Linked DNA regions of Homo sapiens. The protein of the gene in region 1 purifies or fractionates together with the protein of each later gene. This does not show direct contact. Each region holds a gene or a part of one and is shown on either strand. Other genes may lie near its edges. The genes, in order: COA8 and CLUH.

The links.
Region 2: the proteins of COA8 (region 1) and CLUH purify together in Homo sapiens (affinity purification with mass spectrometry; 3 studies listed by BioGRID and IntAct, with this or other methods). This does not show direct contact.

What each region holds. Positions count from the first base shown.
Region 1 is NC_000014.9:103,586,736-103,589,272, forward strand, and holds part of COA8 (cytochrome c oxidase assembly factor 8), read left to right. Parts: intron 1-538; coding exon 539-629; intron 630-2,537. UniProt on the Homo sapiens protein: Required for cytochrome c complex (COX) IV assembly and function Protects COX assembly from oxidation-induced degradation, COX being the terminal component of the mitochondrial respiratory chain.
Region 2 is NC_000017.11:2,698,247-2,702,065, forward strand, and holds part of CLUH (clustered mitochondria protein homolog), read right to left. Parts: intron 3,812-3,819; coding exon 3,668-3,811; intron 3,492-3,667; coding exon 3,367-3,491; intron 3,275-3,366; coding exon 3,120-3,274; intron 3,020-3,119; coding exon 2,894-3,019; intron 2,580-2,893; coding exon 2,432-2,579; intron 2,229-2,431; coding exon 2,136-2,228; intron 345-2,135; coding exon 1-344. UniProt on the Homo sapiens protein: mRNA-binding protein involved in proper cytoplasmic distribution of mitochondria.

The DNA.
Region 1 (2,537 bases):
CCCCAGTATTTTTAGTAGAGACGGGGTTTCACCATGTTGGCCCAGCTGGTCTCAAACTCCTGACCTCAGGTGATCCACCTGCCTCGGCCTCCCAAAGTGCTAGGATTACAGGCGTGAGTCACCACATCTGGCTAATATTTGTATTTTTAGTAGAGATGGGGTTTCACCATGTTGGCCACGCTGGTCATGAACTCCTGACCTCAAGTGATCCTCCCACCTTGGCCTCCCAAAGTGCTGGGATTATAGGCGTGACCCACTGCACCTAGCCTATTTTGTATTTTTCAGTGTACACATCTTACACGTCTCCTCTCAAATTTATTCCTAAGTCTTTTATTATTTTTGATGCTATCATAAGTAGAATTGTTTTCTTGATTTCATTTCAGACTGTTCATTGCTAGTGTATAGAAATACAATTGATGTTTGTATATTGGTCTTGTATATATCCTGCAAGCTTGCTGAACTCATTTATTAGCTCTAATAGTTTTTTGTTTATCCTTTCTCCTTAAGTCTTAATGTTTAAGCTGAAATTACCTTTCAGGTCAGAAAGCAACATTGAATGCAGAAGAAATGGCGGACTTCTACAAGGAATTTTTAAGTAAAAATTTTCAGAAGCACATGTATTATAACAGGTAGGTGTTTACTCTTTTCCTGAAAATTTGAATAGCACATCCAGATTAGGTAGGAGTGTTTTCTTACCTGAATTTAACAACATTCATGTTTATATCAGAGGTAGAAGTTGCAAGACTTTATCAACTTTTTTTTTTCTTTTTTTCTTTTTTTTTTTTTTTTTGAGACGGAGTTTCGCTCTCTCGCCCAGGCTGGAGTGCAGTGGCGCCATCTTGGCTCACTGCAAGCTCCGCCTCCTGGGTTCACGCCATTCTCCTGCCTCAGCCTCCCGAGTAGCTGGGACTACAGGCACCCGCCAGCACGCCTGGCTAATTTTTTGTATTTTTAGTAGAGACAGGGTTTCACCGTGTTAGGCAGGATGGTCTCAATCTCCTGACCTCGTGATCCGCCTGCCTTGGCCTCCCAAAGTGCTGGGATTACAGGCATGAGCCACTGCGCCTCGTCTATCAACTTTATTTTTTAAGTGACTGCAGTGGCTTAAAAAGATACCAATTTTTTTAGGTCGGGTGTGGTGGTTCACACCTGTAATCCCAGCACTTTAGGAGGCCAAGGTGGGCAGATCACCTGAGGTCAGGAGTTCAAGACCAGCCTGACCAACATGGAGAAACCCTGTCTCTACTAAAAATACAAAATTAGCCAGCTGCTCCGGAGGCTCAGTCAGGAGAATCGCTTGAACGTGGAAGGTGGAGGTTGCGGTGAGCTGAGATCGTGCCATTGCACTCCAGTCTGGGCAAGGAGAACAAAACTCCATCTCAAAAAAAAAAAAAAAAAAAAAAAACGGGTTTTAGCTGGTTACAGATAATAATGACCTGTATTTACAGGTGAAATTAATAGGACATGATATCTGAGATTTGCTTTAAAATATTTGTAGGCTGGATACGGTGGCTCGCACCTGGAATCCCATGACTTTGGGAGGCCAAGGTGGGTAGATCACTTGAGTCCAGGAGTTCAAGACCAGTCTGGGCAACATAGTGAAAGGCTTGAGCTAGGAGGACCACTTGAGCCTGGGAGGTTAAGGCTACAGTGAGCCGAGATCCGGCCACTGCATTCCAGCCTGGATGGCAGACAGAGTAAGACCCTGTCTCAATAAATAAATAAATAAGTAAGTAATTAAAAAAATATATATATATATATAAAACAGTTCCAGAGTTACAAAGCCTGATGGGCAGGTGAAGCCAGACTTCAAGAATGTCGACATGGGCCAGGCACGGTAGCTCACACCTGTACTCCCAGCACTTTGGGAGGCCAAGGCAGATGGATTGCTTGAGCCCAGGAGTTTGAGACCAGCCTGGACAACATGACAAAACCCTGTCTCTACAAAAAATACAAAAATTAGCTTGGTGTGGTAGTGTGCACCTGTAATCCCAGCTACAGGAGGCTGAGGCAGGAGGATCCCTTGAGCCCAGGAGGTGGAGGTTGCAGTGAGCCGAGATCCCGCTACTGCACTCCAGCCTGGGCTACAGAGTGAGACCCTAATAAAAAAAGAGAATATAGATACAGTCAAAGGCTGGATGGACTCAGTGAGGGACAGTCTGACCTAAAGATTAGTCCTGAAATATCTGGATTCCATTTCTAAGGTTGTCATGTATTACTCTGAATTAGTTAAGTCATTCAAACAAGCGAGTATAATCTTTCCCTGGTCTTTGGACACGTAGCTTGTTTGCACGGGGCACAGTCTCTGATGGGCTTCATGTTTTCTCTGTGGCACTCGGGTGAAGAGGACCAGCCTTACCCAAGATCAGGCCTTAGAGGAGCCTGGCCCCCACCACCACCTCCTGCCCCTGCCTTCCCTGTGGCAACAGCAGAAGTGTAGCTTGCTTTTACATGTCATAGAATCAGGTCGTCTGTATTAGTGAAATGGAATATGGCTTTTCCTTGAAGAACTGTAATCCCCATGGGCTACCGGTTTT
Region 2 (3,819 bases), on another chromosome or scaffold:
CTCTGCTCCTGGTCCCGCTCCAGGATGCCGGGGATGATGGACTGGGCCGTGACCCGGTAGCCGCGGTAATCCACCACCACCGTGCCCAGCGTGTACAGCCCCTCCACGTCCACCGCGTTGTACGTGCGGACGCCATTCAGGTCGTTGGTGGGCGCCACGTAGGCCGCCACGTCCCCCCCGAAGTCCTTGTAGTGGTCTCGGACGTCGAAGCCCAGGCTGAAGAAGATGTTGTTCCAGATGAACATCTGCATCTTGGTCTCCTCGCTGGGGTTGATGGCCATCACGTTGCCGTCAATGACGGCCATGGCGCCCCTGGTGGCTGCCGCGGTGAAGTCGCTGTGCACCTGGCGGGGGTCGAGGAGGGCAGGGTTAGAGGCCGCGCCCACAAGAGCCTGCATCCACCTGGCCAAGCGCACGCACCTAGACCGCGGAGGCAACCGGGCCTGCCTTGGAAACCCAAGGACCCGGAGCCTCAGTTTCCTCATATGTAGAAAAGGGCAAGAAAACCATGTTTTGGCCGGGCGCGGTGGCTCACACCTGTAATCCCAGCACTTTGAGGGGCCGAGGCGGTCAGACCACTTGAGGTCACGAGTTCGAGACCAGCCTGACCAATATGGTGAAACCCCATCTCTAATAAAAATACAAAAAAAATCAGCCAGGCGAGGTGGCGCGCGCCTGTAGTCCCAGCCACCCGACAGGCTGAGGCAGGAGAATTGCTTGAACCCGGGAGGTGGAGGTTACAGTGAGCCGAAATCACACCACTGCACTCCAGCCTGGGGGACAGAGTGAGACTCCATTTCTAAAAAAGCGCAAACAAACCAAAACCCCCATGTTTTGAGAATACACTTGTGCTGAGGGAGACAGCAGGGCTTAGTGATTAACAAGCGTGCGCAGGTTTGGGATCCACCAGTTATGTGCCAGGTGAACTTGAACAGATAAAGGTATTGACCTTTACAAGTTGTCCAATATATTATAGGAAATAGTCTCTATAACGCACTTGGCACCATCTCTGGTGAAGTCGGTACCCGAGAAATGAGTTTTTGTTTCTACAATTATCATCTCTAGGCAGTATAACTATGGGAGGTTGGTTGTTTTCAGACAGGGTATCACGCTGTTGCCAAGGCTGGAATGCAGCGGCACGAGATCCGAGCTCACTGAAGCCTCGACTTCCCCTGGCTCAGGCCATCCTCCCACTCCAGCCTCCCGAGTAGCTGGGACTACAGGCACATGCCACCATGCCTGGCTAATCTTTTGTATTTTTTGCAGAGACGAGGTTTCACCATGTTTCGTAGGCTGGTTTCCAACTCCTGGGCTCAAGTGATCTGCCTGTCTCAGCCTCCCAAAGTGCTAGGATTACAGGCGTGAGCCACTGTGCCTGGCTGAGATTTCTTTTTTTTTTTTTTGAGACGTAGTCTTGTTCTGTCGCCCAGGCTGGAGTGCAGTGATGCAATTTCGGCTCACTGCAACCTCCGCCTATTGGGTTCAAGCAATTCTCCTGTCTCAGACTCCCGAGTAGCTGGGACTACAGGCATGCGCCACCACACCCAGCTAATTTTTGTATTTTTAGTGGAGATGGGGTTTCCCCATATTGGCCAGGCTGGTCTTGAACTCCTGACCTTGTGATCCGCCCGCCTCGGCCTCCCAAAGTGCTGGGATTACAGGCATGAGCTACTGAAGCCGGCCTGAGATTTTTTTTTTCTTAAGCAACTGCTTTTCCTCATTTCTCTTAGTAACCCAGCACTAATAACTTTTAAACCCCAGCAAACTAAAAGTGTTATGCAAATGAGCACCCGCCCTAGAAGGGCCATGGCCGGCCAGTGCTCGCCCAGGCAAAAGCCCCGCAGCAGTCACAGAGGGCGGGAAGCTGCACGGCCCTGGACACTCAGTCCCTATGGGAAGTAGGGCCCGCTCCTTCCAGGGACTCAAAGCCTCAGAGAGGCCAGAGAAAGGTACTGGGATGGTCTGCTGGGAGGCGGAAGGCTAGCAGACCCTGCGGGAGACGCTGACTGGCCTTCGGGGAACCTGACAGGGTTAGGGCTGCCCCTGCCTCCCTTGCTTTCCTCCTCTCCATGAGAAAACCCGTCAGCAGGTGGACAGCGGGCCTCAGACTGCCGGTCAGCAGAGGCTGCAGGCACCTTGAATATGGCCCTTTCTCGGAGCAGCCGCTCAGGCAGGTTCTTGCGAGGCAGCTCCCTCGTCGTCTGCAGCTCCTCATTCCAGTCTCGGGTCTGCAGAGAGATCAGGGAGGGAAAAACGAGCTCAGCCTGTGCCCTGTGACCTGCTCCCGGAAGTCGCTCCTTCTACCTTCCTGAGAAGAGCCCCAGACTCCCAAATGAAGTCAAGCATGGGGCCTCCAGGGAAGTGCACGGAACCAGCCCAGCACCCAGGAGGGCAGGGGTGCCCAGCGAGGGCAGGGCCAGGTTGCAGGCACCTGTCCAGGAATGTGCTCCTCATAGCCCAGCCTCGAGGTGTAGGCGTCCTCTGCACGCACGCAATCCATGGCATGCTCCGCCTGGGGGGCTGTCCAGCTGTACACCTGGAATGGGGTGGCGATCCTCTCGAACGGGTGGCGCTGGACCCTGTGGCAGGCAGGGGAGGGGGAGATGGGGCAGCCCACCAAGCTCAGAGCCCTTCCACGGGCCCCTTTTCTGAGGCCCCCGCCTGCTCCGGCATCTCCCACCCTGAGACACTGCCCTGGAGCCAGATGGAAGTGCACGGGCGCCTCTCCTGCGGCTGCTGTCTCGGCACTGGCCGACAGCTCCCTAGAGCGGGGACTCCAACACTGGGGGCCCAGGGCGGTTTCTTCAGACAGAAGCACTGGAGTGCAGGTGGGCCGGCTCACCCCATGCCCCCGTGTGCCATGAGACAAGGCGGGAGGGGACAAAGGCACTACCTTTTCTTCTGCAGCACAGCGAAGTTCTTCTTGAAGGTCGGGCTGATCTGGTTGAGCAGCTCCACTAGGGAATGGCTTAGGAAGCGGGGGCTGGCGGGCTTGGGGTTGAAGTGATAAGCTGTGGACCTGCAGGGAGAGGGCGGGCACTGAGCGGGGGCCCAGGTGTCTGCCCAGACCCAGGACGGCTGGCACGGCAGGGGGGTGTGGTGGGCTGGCAGGGACTCACTGATTCAGGTAAAAGCCCCGTGTGGACGCGGTGATGCTGACTTGCCGGTCCTCGGCTGTGATCACAAACAGGTACATGAGGTCCCCGTGCATCTTCCGGTTCCCCGGGGGCGGGTTCCATCCGCTCATGGTGAGTACTTTCAGGCACTGCAAGGGCTTCGGGAGCGGCCGAGTCTGAGGGGCCAGGCCTCTGGTGTGGGGCCTCCACCCCGCCAGGGACCCTCTTCCTCCCTCCCCCAGGATCCTACCTTCCAGTCACGGTTTTGGGGCTGCAGGGGACACAGTGGCCGCTCCCGGCTCCCTGGCAGGATGTACTCGGGTGGTGTGCAGTCGATGGGGTCCATCTCCAAGCCCTTCTTCCGCTTCCCGCTGTCTGAGGGACCCGAGGCTGGTGGTCAGCACAGGGCCACCCAGGGCCAGCTGTCTCCCTACCTCCTGATGGCCGTGGTCCGGGTGCCTCAGGCCCAGGCCCCTCGGCCCCTTCTCCAGCCCCCCACCTCCGTGCTCCCCGCCCTTTGGCCCAATCCCCGGCCCCAGTGCCTCCCGCACCTCCCAGGTCGCCGTCGGTGAAGACACTCAGGAAGGACAAGGAGTTGCAGTCAACCCCGTTGAAGGCATCGGATGGGTCCAGGCTCTTGAGCAGGTCTCGGACATGGCGCACGTGGATGCGGGCCTCACGCACCGTGTACGGCTCTGTCAGG